Regions from separate parts of the Homo sapiens genome. Here regions 1, 3 and 4 are each reported to be linked to region 2. Evidence: microRNA targets listed by miRTarBase, many of them from high-throughput screens and not tested one by one. Region 2 holds a microRNA gene; each other region holds the end of a gene's coding sequence.

Region 1 (3,131 bases), not on the chromosome of region 2:
CCTCACCATCGCGGTCTCAGGAGATAAAGTAAGCGGGGAAGGCCTCGGGTTCTAAATTATTGGACGTCCGGCTTTCCATCCTCCTCATGAGCCCACTGCATGTCTGTGTCTCCAGATCCTCAGTGTCATGGAGCTGGACTCGTACCCTCTCTACGCCATCTACCTCATCGTCATTGGCCTCAGCGGTGGCTTCATGGTCCTGTACTACGTGTCCTTAAGGTTCATCAAACAGAAACCAAGTCAAGACTGGTGATTCACGCCAGACGTCTGCCCGCTGGTGGGGGACCTGAGCAGACCCTTCAACTGCACTCCCTCCTCAGGAGCCCCTTCCTGGGGACAGTGAGGACAATGACCCTACAGATGCTCAGCTACATCCGGCCCAGGGTGCTGCAGTGGCACAGACCAGCCACAGGATGGCAGTAGAATAAAGACAGTCGAAAGGGATTTCTGCTCACTGGCAGGAGACTGCGATGACTGGGAGAAAACCTGCACTCGGTGGCACCTACAACGTTGCTAATTTATTTCCTTTTGATATGCATTTATATAGGCAACTCGATATAGGATGGGAGCAAACTAGGAATGAATTGGGTAGCTAGACTGTGCAGGAATTGTTGGAACCTGGAGGGAACAATAACAGTAGCTAGCAGATTTGGCTTCATCTTCCAGGGGCCCCACACTCCGTGGTGAGCCACCATCAATACAGAAAGTGACCTAAGATGTACCAGCAAGATGCCATCCCTTCTTTTTGTGTGGGGTCATGGGCTCCAAAAGCCAACGTGAACAATTAAAAATGTATTGAGCATCTACTCTGTAGCAGGTCCTGTGAAAACACTTTAGGTGGACAATCCCTTGAGGTAAGTGGTATCCCATTTTATAGGTGTGAAAACTGAAGCAAAAATTCATTTTCCTAAGGGCACATGGATACTTTGTGGTGGAGTCATATGGGGATCAGAAAAGCCTTTGAGGCCTTTGGAGTTAGAGGGCAGAAGGCAAGGCCTGAGCCGCTGTAAGCCTTAGGAGTTTAGGAAGGCTCCAGAAGACAAATGGGGTCTGTAGAGGCTGTTAACTCAGCCAGGCTTCTTAGAGTTGCATTTCACTAACTGATATGGTTTGGCTCTGCGTCCTCACCCAAATCTCACCTTGAATTGTAATAATCCCCAAGTGTCAAGGGCGGGACCAGATGGAGATAATTGAATCATAGGGGTGGTTTCTCTGATGCTGTTCTCCTGAGAGTGAGTGAGTTCTGATGAGATCCGACGGTTTTATAAGGGGCTTCCCTCTTCGCTCGGCTCTCATTCTCTCTCCCGCTACCCTGTGAAGAGGAGCCTTCCACCACGACTGCAAGTTTCCTGAGGCTGCCCCAGCCGTGCTGAACTGTGAGTCAGTTAAACCTCTTTTCTTTATAAATTACCCAGTCTTGGGTATTTCTTCATAGCAGTGTGAGAGCAGATGAATACACTGGCCCTGCCTGGGTTTCAGAACCAGCCTTGAACCTTTCACAGTGGCCAGAGGATGGGGAGGCAGAGGCCCAGGTTGCACACTTCTTGCCTGAGTGTTGGGGACTATCTGACCCAAAACAGGTGCACAGAGGGCAGGAGAGGATGTTCCCAAAGGAAAATTAGAGTTTAGAATCAAAAGAAGGGGAAGGTGCGTGTTTGGGAGGTAAATAGCAAATACTCTTCATAGGTTCACTAGAGTCTTGCTACTCCAAGTACGATCCCTGGGCCAGCAGAATGGGCACAGCTGGAGCTGATTGGATAGGTCCCATGAGCCTCAGGCCCCACCCAGGCTCAATGAGTCAGAGTCTGCGTCTTAAGAAGACCCCCTGGTGATCTGTGCACATTCAAGCATGCTGCCGTTTTCCAAAGCACTTGCAACACTCAGGATGCTTGCACGGTCATGTTGCCACCATCCAACCTGCAGACCCCATTCTTGAGATTGACTGGGAGTTCCTATCATGTCCTCCATAGCAAGGGGATCTAGACCAGAATCAAGCCTTGGATCTAGTTCTCAAGTCTCTTTTGTCTCTTTCAGTTTAGGAACAGTTTGTCAACTTTCCTTCACTTTTGTGACCTTGATACTTGAGTTTGAAGGCTGTCTCTCAATTTGTGTTCTGCCCAGTGCATCCTATCAGAAGGCATGTGATTTCAACTTCTCCCATACCAACAACGTTCACTTTGATCACTTGATTAAAGGGGTGTCTGCTAGGCTTCTCCACAGCCAAGTTACTATTTTCCCTCCCTTTATAATTAATAAGCATTTTGTAAGTGGGTACTTTGAAACTATGTAAATTGTAAACTTTCCATTTATGCATTTTAAAATTTTGATTGATGTAAACTTGTGAATTCCCATTGTATCCTTACAACCCTTTATTATTGTGATTAATTCTGATGCTCAGCTTGTCCCTGATTTGGCCAGTGGGAACCCCGTCGAGCTGGCTTCTGCATCCTTTTGATATGTCCTCATCATCCTTTGAGGGCTGAAACAACCAAGAGTTTCAGGCTCATTTTTTGTTTTGTTTTTTTTTTTTTGAGACAGAATCTCATTCTGTGGCCCAGGCTGGAGTGCAATGGCGCGATCTCGGCTCACTGCAACCTCTGCCTCCCAGGTTCAAGCGATTGCCTTGCCTCAGCCTCCCAAGTAGTTGGGATTAACAGTGCCCACCACCACACCTGGCTAATTTTTGTATTTTTAGTAAAGACAGTGTTTCACCATATTGGCCAGACTGGTTGTGAACTCTAGGCCTCAAGTGATCTGCCTGCTTCGGCCTCCCAAAGTGTTGGGATTACAGGTGTGACCCACCGCACCTGGTGTCACAGGTTCATCTTGTATTTTCCCATCTCAGCCCTGGAATCCGATGTTTCTCCAGAGAATCTGGGTTCCTCTTAGTGGAAAATGGTATTTAGAAGCCAAGGTTTTGGTGATAAGTATGCTCTTTGCTTGTGGAACATCTCTGCTCCCAGGCTCTCTCAGTGAACAGAGTTAGGGAGTGTGTGTGTGTGTGCGCGCGCGCGCGCGCATGTGCATACATATACACCTAAGTACACATGAGTTTACTCTGATAACATCCATTTCCAATCCAGCATCACAGAGTTGATCCTAGGTTCTTCCCTCTTCTCTAATTGTGAGAA
Region 2 (3,131 bases):
TGCACATCCCATCTGCAAGGGACGCTGAGGTCCCCTTCAATTCTACGTGAACCCACGTGAGGTTCTATAAACCAGTGCCCGAATAATTTCTACGTAGGAAAAGTTGTTGATAGCCGGGCGTGTTGGCTCACACCTGTATTCACAGCACTTTGTGAGGCTGAGGCAGGTGGACCAACTGAGGTCAGGAGTTCCAGACCAACCTGGCCAACATGGCAAAACCCTGTCTCTATTAAAAATACAAAAATTAGCCGGGCGTGGTGGTGCACGGTTGTAGTCCTAGCGACACGTGAGGCTGAGGCAAGAGAATCGCTTGAACCCGGGAGGCAGTGGTTGCAGTGAGCTGAGATCACACCATTGCACTCCAGCCTGGGTGACAGAGCGAGACTCTGTCTCAAAAAAAAATAATAATAATAAAATAAATAAATAAATAAATAAATAAATAAAAGGTGTTGAGGACTGGAAGAACATGCATCGCTCACTATGGCAACAAGAAGAGCTGCTGTGCATTCCACCTGTTACGAGGGAGCCCCTTCTAGGGTCCTCAAGATTTTTGTGAAAACAACTGGTTTTGTTGCATGCTACATTTATCACTGTGACTGAGATTCATCTTGTCTACAACAGTTTCTTATATTAGCCACAGCTAATATAAGACACATTTGACATCTTAGCAAGTAACTGGCATTTAGATGCAAGGTTTAAGCCCATTGGAATGGTACCTTGGAATCGTTACCCAAAGAAAATAGGATAAACATGGCAGCTACAGTCAAAGAACTCACTGGGGTTGGCATTAGTGGGTGAGGGTTGAATCAACTACACCCTTCCTGCAGAGAAAGCAGGTCTATTCCGAGAAATGATGGCAAGATGTTGGGGAAAAACAAATTTCAGTGTTACGGACAAGCAGATTACACTAAAAAGACACGAGTGAACAGGAACAAAAAGAAATTGTATCAATACGGACACCCACTGGGGATTACAGAATAGACTGGATGGACTTGGAGGATTACCCACTCTCTTAATGAAGGAACCATGGTTTGGATTGATTATACTAAATTGATGGGAGGCCATTGTATGACATGACCAACCCAAATGAAATCTGTGGGACCAGGTGCTATGTAATCTGTTTTTAAAGAAATGGGATCTTGCTATGTTGGCCCAGGCTGGAGTGCAGTGGCTATTCAAAGGTGGGATCTGTGCACGGTATAGCCTTAAAATCAAAGCACCCTCCCGCCCCGGCCCCTGCAGTAACTGGGACTGTGTGCCCCATGATGCCTGGCCAAGTCAACTATCTTTGAAATGGGTCATCAGGACAAGGTGGCTCACACCTGTAGGATCGCTTGAGCTCAGGAGTTGAGACCGTCCTGAGCAACAGAGACCCCATCTCTACCAAAAATTAAAAGCTGAACCAAGTGTTGTGTCACGCCCCATGTAATCCCAACTACTTGGGAGGCTGACTCAGGAAGACCACTTGAGGCCGGACACAGTGGCTCACGCCTGTAATACCAGCACTTTGGGAAGCCAGGGAGGCAAATCACTTGAAGTCAGGAGTTGAGAACAGCCCAGCAAACATGGTGTAACCCCATCTCTGCTAAAAATACAAAAATTAGCATGACATGGTGGTGGGCGCCTGTAATCCCAGCTACATGGGAGGCTGAGGTGGCAGAACTGCTGGAACCTGGGAGATGGAGGTTGCAGTGAGTGGAGATTGTCCTACTGCACTCCAGCCTGGGTCACAGAGCCAGATTCCATCTCTAAATGAATGAATGAATAAATAAATAAATAAATAAATAAATAAATAAATAAATAAATAGAGGGTCTCTTGGGCCCAGGAGAGCTAGGTTGGAACTGCCACTGCACTCCAGCCTGGGCAACAGAGACCCTGTCTTGGAGAAAAACAAAATCAGAACCCCAACATCATCCGAGTCTGATGATGAGCGTGCTCTGCAAATGTATTACCAAGATCAGCATCAACTTCAACGCTGCTTTACTCAAACCGAAACAGTCCAAAGGGAAGCACTTTCTTTTCTCTCAGACAACAGAAAGTACTTCCCTCTGGAGGGTCACAGCCTGAGATCTTCTTGCTCCAGCACTCTGGGTTTATTGTTGGAATTTTCCTTGACCAGGTTTAAATGGACACAAAAATAAAGATGCATTTTTCCTGGCCCTGTTTGCATGTTTTCTGGAATCCAGAATATAAACCCCCTAAAAGGACCATCTCCAGTTCCTTCTTTCAAAGGCTCAGCAGGTTAGCCTTGTTCATCAAGGGGCAATCCTCCTGAGTTTTGCCCCCAAAGAGAAAAAGCAATGCCTACTACTCATACCTTATCTTTAACCAAGAGAATCGAACTGAATTTCTAGAGAACAGCAATGGATTTTGAGCCAAGTGTTCACTTGAGTTCCAGTATAGGCACATGTAGTACCCATGGGGGCATCCAAAATGGAATCTAAGATGTTGAAGAATGTACATTGTCGCACACACAAACATCCTCCAGGAGAGACCACAGGCTACGCTGTAAAAGCTCCTCAATAAAAAAATACACAAGTACCTGTTGGGTGCGGTGGCTCACATCTCTAACCCCAGCACTTCAGGACGCCGAAGTGAGAGGATCACTTGAGCTCAAGAGTTCCAGACAAGCCTGGGCAACATGGTGAAGCTTCATCTGTACAAAAAATACAAAAGTGAGCCAGGTGTGGTGGTGCATACCTGTAGACACTAATTCAGGAGGCTGCGGTGGCAGGTGGAGGTTGCAGTGAGCCAACATTGCACCACTGCACTCCAGCCTCGGTGATATAGTCAGGCTGTGTCTTGTAAAAACTAGAAACACATACACACACACACACACACACACACACACACACAAAGACACACACTCAAAGTGATAGTCTCCTGCCTCACCCTCCGGAGTAGCTGAGACTACAGGCGTGCGCCACCAGCCCTGGCTAATTTTTTGTATTTTTAGCAGAGACATGGTTTCACCATGTTGGCCAGTCTGGTCTCGCCCTCCTGATCTCAGGTTATCCACCCGCCTCGGCCTCCCAAACTGCTGGGATTACAGGCGTGATCCACCGCACCTGGCCATACATCATATATTTTTGAGACCCTGTCTCAAAAGAAAGAAAGTTCCATATACTGT
Region 3 (3,131 bases), not on the chromosome of region 2:
CCTTGTAAATTGAGGGAACAGCTTCCCATCCACTCTCCTTTTACTCTCTTTCTTTCTTTCTAACAGCACACCATATGGTCCCTCGGCCATCAGTGCCACCTCCTGGTGCCAATGAGGAGATCCCTGATGACTTCGACTGGGACTTGATCACTTAGTGCATCACAGAGTGTGGACATCAGCCCAGGGCCGCGTGGTGAAATCTGGCAGTGGGGAAAGAGCAACCCCAGCCCGTCCCTTCCCCCCGTCTGTATATAGACATATATCCTCTTTTTGTTCTTTCTCTGTCAGAGAAGCCACTGCAAGATGCTGCCGAAGATAACCCTCTCTTTCCTGCCTCATTCTTCTCTCTTCCTTCCTGTTTTTTCCTAGTTCTTTTATTATTATTCTTATATTATTATTATTATTATTGGTTATATACTGTCCATAGTCTCCTGTCCCTACATCATGGATCATGTCCACCTTTTGCTAATTTAAAATCATCAGGCTGGAAGATGAAGCCATGATAGCTACAGAGAAAGGTTTTAGACTCCAGTTTACCTTTCTCTTGGAGAAACTCAATGCTAATCCCACCTTTTGGCCCTAAATTGTTTTTTGTTCCCATCAGTTTCAGGCCAGGACTGGAGAGGCCACATTACCAAGTAGAAAGGGTCTGAAACATTACTTGGCAGCCAAGAATTTGGAGGTTTTAAAATGGTGCTAATTCTGTCCTCTGAGGTCTTCCTTGTCCCTTTATACCTTCAATCCTTACTTCTGCCAGTCTGTATTTCCTATCAAGGGTGAAAGTGATGATGGTGGTGCAGGAGGGTGACAATAAAATCCTAGTGGAATTGGAGACCATTGGAAGGGATGGAATATAAGTCAGTGTGAAACTGAGTATACACTGCCATGTTACATCAGTGTCCATTGGCTTGTTTTGAGCCTGTTCTCTAAGAAGATAGGATTGGTTTTAGCCCAAACTCTGCTTCTATGGTAGGGCATGAGGACAACTATTCAGCATGGTTTTAGCTTCTTGGAGATGATTCCAACTTAACTATTTTGGCTTTTTAAACATAATTTTCTCTGAAAATTAATTGTGGCTCTTATTTGCATTTACGAATGATCTTCCCATCCCTTTTTCCCATTCAGCAAATATTAGTTTGTCCTCCTTTAATTGTTTGCCCAAATCTTCCACCCATCTTTTTTCTTCCCTCATTTTCTGGGATTCTCAAGAAAGAAAAAGTAACCCATTATCACTCTGAGTTTCGTCGTGCCCTGAGACATGATGGGAATCTCATTCCCACCTCTCATAGCAGAGCCAAACCTTTAGTGTTGGTGGTAGGAGGATGGGGAGAGGAAAAAAGAGCTGGCAAAGAAATGGATAGGGAATATTTTAGTTCTTTAAATATATAGGCAGATGCTTCTCTTGGAATCCAGATCATCTGGCTGAAGCTTTTGCAAGTAGGCTTTGAGGGGTGAAGGAGATTGGTGGAGGAGAGTAAATAATCTAGAGGCAAGAGTTCAGTGAGGGCCAAGGGGGACCCCCAGAAAAAGGTATGGAGCTAACTCATCTCTTTTACAAGGGGTGGCCATGACTTACTGTTGCAAAGTACTCAGTGTATATTTAATGTTGATTGTTGAATTTTAGTTACGAGAGGGAAGAACAATTTTACTTCTGTCCTTATTTCACTTGCTGAAAAGCTGTGGGACAAAATGTATGGAATAGACAAGGCCACTTTCTTTGTGATTTCTGCTTTTCATGCATATTATTTTATTTACCCATAATTTCCAAGAGGTTTGGCGTTCCGCTCTCCTGCTTTTTTCTTTCATCCACCCCTTTCCTTTTTTTGGAAGGGGGTTATATATGAGAGTTCATTGAAGAAGTCCAGTGAGGCTGAAGTAAAGGGGCAAGATAGGGCAGTTAACTAAAGAGCACTTTATTTCTTTGAAGCCTTTCTAAGAAAGAAATGGGGGTGCGAGTGGCTTGAATCTCCCATGATGTTGGAGGGCACTTAGTGGGGTTGAAGTATGACATAATATTTCCCATTGGGGAAAGGAGAATTTCTCTTAGAGGGTGGCAAAATGCCTTTGCCCAGTGTCCCTATTTTAGGCATCTTTTCCTTCCTTATTCCTTCCAGTCAGGGTGTGTCCTATACAAAACTTCCCATCAGTTCTCCTCAATATTCCCCATTTGTAAATGATCACTTCTCTTTTCTAAACCCTTTTCCTGTTCAGATCCATACAGGATTTGCAAGGGTAGGATCATACATGCAAATGCCCCTTGTTCATCTGTGTCTTCTGCAAACTAGTCTCATGAAGAATTCTGGCGTGCAGCCAGGGTAGCTGAAGTTTGGGTCTGGGACTGGAGATTGGCCATTAGGCCTCCTGAGATTCCAGCTCCCTTCCACCAAGCCCAGTCTTGCTACGTGGCACAGGGCAAACCTGACTCCCTTTGGGCCTCAGTTTCCCCTCCCCTTCATGAAATGAAAAGAATACTACTTTTTCTTGTTGGTCTAGCATTGCTGGACACAAAGTGTAGTCATTATTGTTGTATTGGGTGATGTGTGCAAAACTGCAGAAGCTCACTGCCTATAAGAGGAAATAAGAGAGAAAGTGGAGGAGAGGGACAAAAGGAGTAATTATTTGGTATAGATCCACCCATCCCAACCTTTCTCTCCTCAGTCCCTGCTCCTCATGTTTCTGGTTTGGTGAGTCCTTTGTGCCACCACCCATAATGCTTTGCATTGCTGCATCCTGGGAAGGGGGTATATGGTCTCACAAGTTGTTGTCATTGTTTTTTTGCATGCTTTCTTAATAAAAAAAAAAAAAGAATGTTTACAGTTTTATCTTACTGGTAGTGGTCTCAAGTTTCTTTTGGCCAGGGAAGGAAAAGAGAAACGTGAAAGAATTTAGTCTCAGTTCGTCTTTATTCCTCTTCCACCTTCCACCACTGGGTTGAATTAGTTGACCCTGACACGTTTTGTGACCTTGGTGGGAAAGAAGAATCAAAGGCACGTCCTTAACGTGCCTCTTTTCAAATGCTATCAAGTATGATGACATATTGCGGGAGAGTCAGTCACCCCTTGTAGGTTGGTATATGGAGTAGGCCCACCTTGCTTGCATTTTAGGATAGTTTAAAGATTTAAGATATTATA
Region 4 (3,131 bases), not on the chromosome of region 2:
TTTCATAACTCTTGCTGAAGTTATTTCTTCCAAGTGCAGAAAATGAAGCATTTTCTTTCTAATTATAGAGGCCCCCAGAATGAGAAGTGACAACAAGGAAAATCCACAACAGGAAGGGGCTAAAGGAGCAAAGCCATGTGCAGTGTCAGCTGGCAGATCCAAAGGGAATGGTCTGCAGAATCCTGAACCAAGAGGGGCAAATATGAGTGAACCTCGGTTGTCACGGAGGCAGGTCAGCTCCCCAAATGCTCAAAAGCCATTTGCTCACTACCAGAGACATTGCAGGGTGGAATACATCAGCAGCCCCCTAAAAAGCCACCCACTGAGAGAGCTAAAGAAAAGCAAAGGAGGTAAACGGAGTCTGAGCAACCGTTTGCAACATCTTGGTCACCAGCCCACCCGCTCAGCAAAGAAACCCTACAAATGTGATGACTGTGGGAAAAGCTTCACGTGGAATTCAGAGCTGAAGAGACACAAGAGAGTCCACACAGGAGAGAGACCCTACACGTGCGGAGAGTGTGGAAACTGCTTTGGGCGGCAGTCAACCCTGAAGCTGCACCAGAGGATCCACACTGGAGAGAAGCCATACCAGTGTGGCCAGTGTGGGAAAAGCTTTCGCCAGAGCTCAAACCTTCACCAGCATCACCGACTTCACCATGGGGACTAAAAGGAGCACTCCATGCTTTAGATTCACACGGAAGGTGTTTGTGTTTCTCCTCCCCCTTACTTGCATGTAAATCACAAAAACTGTGTGACTTACAAGGAAAGCACGAGGCCCTTGAGGAATGATGATGCACATTCTGCTGTGAGGAGGCCCAGAAAAGGCCAACCAGGGCCCAACCGTGCATGATGACAGGGTGAAGAGAAGGCAGGTCTGGGCACTGGGGCAAAGAGAACTTAAGTCTCTGCAGAGAGCAAGGAGTAACTACTGAGAGAGAATCAGGACAATCCTGCAGGTGGCCCGCTTACTGTTAAATCGTCCCTCTGTTGCTTTATCCTCTAAAATATGTTAAGGGATAAATTCTATATATATAGTTATGCATTTGCTGTCATACCAGACAATTTTTTATCATGAGCACACTTCTTTAATAAAGATGAGTGATCTACCAGAATTTCAAGGCAAAGTTAATTGGAAAATAGATCCCTCATATTCTTTCTGTAATTACTAGCTGTTTATAGCAAAGGATGAATTAAATGAGAATATGCACGTTTGTGCGAGAAGAGTTTCCAAGTAGTTAGATGGTGCTTTTACAAAAAGAAAAGAAAATTACATTTGAGGGATCTTTTTTGTATCAAAGCACCTTTTTTTTTTCCTTTTTATTTTTTGAGACAGGGTCTCGCTATGTTGCCCAGGCTGGTCTCGAACTCCTGGGCTCAAGCAATGCTCCTGCCTTGGCATCCCAAAGTGCTGGGATTGCAAGTGTGAACCACCGTGCCTGTTCTCAAAGCACCTTTGATTGAGAAAAAAAAAATCTACACAGTTGCTGCAACCCCAGCCTAACACATAAGGAAAAGCTACAGTGAGAAGCAAGTAGTGGACAAAGAGTACTAAGGAGATATAAAAGGGAATTCTTCCCACTCTCCTTTCTCACTTAGCCCATTAGCTTTAAGAATAACAAAATGCAATGGGGGTACAGTGGCTCACACATGTAATCCTAGCACTTTGAGAGGCTGAGGCAGGGTGATCGAGCCCAGGAGTTTGAGACCAGCCTGGGCAATGTAGCTAAATCCTGTCTCTACAAAAAATACAAAAATTAGCCAGGCATGATGGTGCATGCCTATAATCCCAGCTAGCTACTCTTGGAGGCTGAGGCAAAAGTATTGTTTGAGCCCAGGAGTTAGAGGCTGCAGTGAGCTATGATTGCACCACTCCACTCTAGCCTGGATGACAGAGTGAGACTCTGTCTCAGGAAAAAAAAAAAATAGCAAAAGGATTGGGGTAATGAAAATATTCTAAGACTGGATTACAGTGATGGTTGCACAACTCAGTAAATTTACTAAAAATAATTGAAATGGGCTAATTTTATGATATGTAAATTGTACCTCAACAGCGTATTTTTAAGTGACAAAATATATTTATATAAAATGAGCCCTGGAAATAAGCCTGAGCGATCATCTAATGCCACCTCCTCGTTTTCTCAAAGCGGAAATTAAAATGCAAATCAGTATACAATTCCTAGCTCATTGCTCAGTTTAGAGAAAACTTTTGGCAGATTAGTGCATTCCTGATGCAGAAAATAAGAAGCAAGTAGCATTTTTTTTTTTTGAGACAGGGTCTCACTCTGTTGCCCAGGCTAGAGTGCACTGGCGTGATCATGCCTCACTATAGCTTCGATCTTCTGGGCTCAAGCAATCCTCCCTCCTCAGCCTCCCGAGCAGTTGGGACTACAGGAATGCACCACCATGCCTGGCTAATTTTTCTATTTTTTTGTAGAGACAGAGTCTCACTGTGTTGCCCAGTCTATCCTCGAACTCCTGGGCTCAAGCCATCCTCTCACTTTAGACTCCCAAAGTGCTGGGATTACAGATGTACGCTCAGCAAGGTAGCATTCTTCACAAAACATCAGTATCATCAAGTAACTACCAGTCACCTCAGGGCTGTGGGCTGAGCTCTTCTGTACCCCCCAAGGAATCTCTTGTCCCTTCTAACTGCCGAGGGACATATGCACACCTATGAGTCCTCTTTGGGGCCTTTGCACACAATTGTTTCCTTTGCCTTTATTTCCTGATGCTCCCCACTCCCTCCTGCCTCCTCCCTCTCACAAGAGTTTCCTTCTCTCAAAGCCTTCCCTGAGGAGCCCTAGGCAGACTTCTGTGAAAATTGGGGTCCAGCCTCTCTGCTAGACCCCATACACCAGGGGTGCTCAAACTGGGAGCCCCCCAGGGGTTGTCGGACAAAGTCCAAAGACACTTTTGGTTGTTAGGACTGGGGAAGGGAGGCTTGTTGCTGGCCTCTAGTGGGTTCTACTGAACCGCCTGCAGTGCCGGGACAGCCAGCCCCCACAGCAATGACCTGGCTCAAAAAATCAGTATCACCAAGGCTGGGAAACTACCATGCACTATAACAGCTCTTTCAAAACAAGAACATTGTTTTTCCATAACTTTAGCTTCTGGACTTTGTCAATAACCAG

What was found. The annotated mature microRNA hsa-miR-520a-3p reads AAAGUGCUUCCCUUUGGACUGU and lies in region 2 at 1,996-2,017, opposite strand. An mRNA with a match to its seed (bases 2 to 7 or 8) in the 3' UTR can be bound and repressed. Matches are read on the target gene's strand: a 7mer-m8 pairs with bases 2 to 8, a 7mer-A1 pairs with bases 2 to 7 and ends in A, and an 8mer does both.
Region 1: the mRNA of ABCG8 is a reported target of hsa-miR-520a-3p. Seed matches in the 3' UTR shown: 7mer-m8 at 1,867-1,873.
Region 3: the mRNA of FOXJ2 is a reported target of hsa-miR-520a-3p. Seed matches in the 3' UTR shown: 7mer-m8 at 1,908-1,914 and 7mer-A1 at 1,985-1,991.
Region 4: the mRNA of ZNF174 is a reported target of hsa-miR-520a-3p. The part of its 3' UTR that is shown has no 7-base or 8-base seed match.

Annotation. Positions count from the first base shown.
Region 1 is chr2:43,877,661-43,880,791 of GRCh38, forward strand. It overlaps ABCG8 (ATP binding cassette subfamily G member 8), which reads left to right. Exons shown (of 13, transcript NM_022437.3): 12 at 1-28; 13 at 116-3,131. The coding sequence ends at 253. Among named protein-coding and RNA genes, the nearest start is that of ABCG8, 40 kb to the left of the region's middle.
Region 2 is chr19:53,689,819-53,692,949 of GRCh38, reverse strand. MIR520A (microRNA 520a) reads right to left here and starts at 2,069; the gene lies at 1,985-2,069. The region is part of intron 2 of LOC107985342 (a long non-coding RNA gene); the gene reads right to left.
Region 3 is chr12:8,052,696-8,055,826 of GRCh38, forward strand. It overlaps FOXJ2 (forkhead box J2), which reads left to right. Exons shown (of 11, transcript NM_018416.3): 11 at 67-2,822. The coding sequence ends at 155. Among named protein-coding and RNA genes, the nearest start is that of C3AR1, 12 kb to the right of the region's middle.
Region 4 is chr16:3,408,253-3,411,383 of GRCh38, forward strand. ZNF174 (zinc finger protein 174) reads left to right here. Exons shown (of 3, transcript NM_003450.3): 3 at 69-1,112. The coding sequence ends at 667. Among named protein-coding and RNA genes, the nearest start is that of ZNF174, 8.6 kb to the left of the region's middle.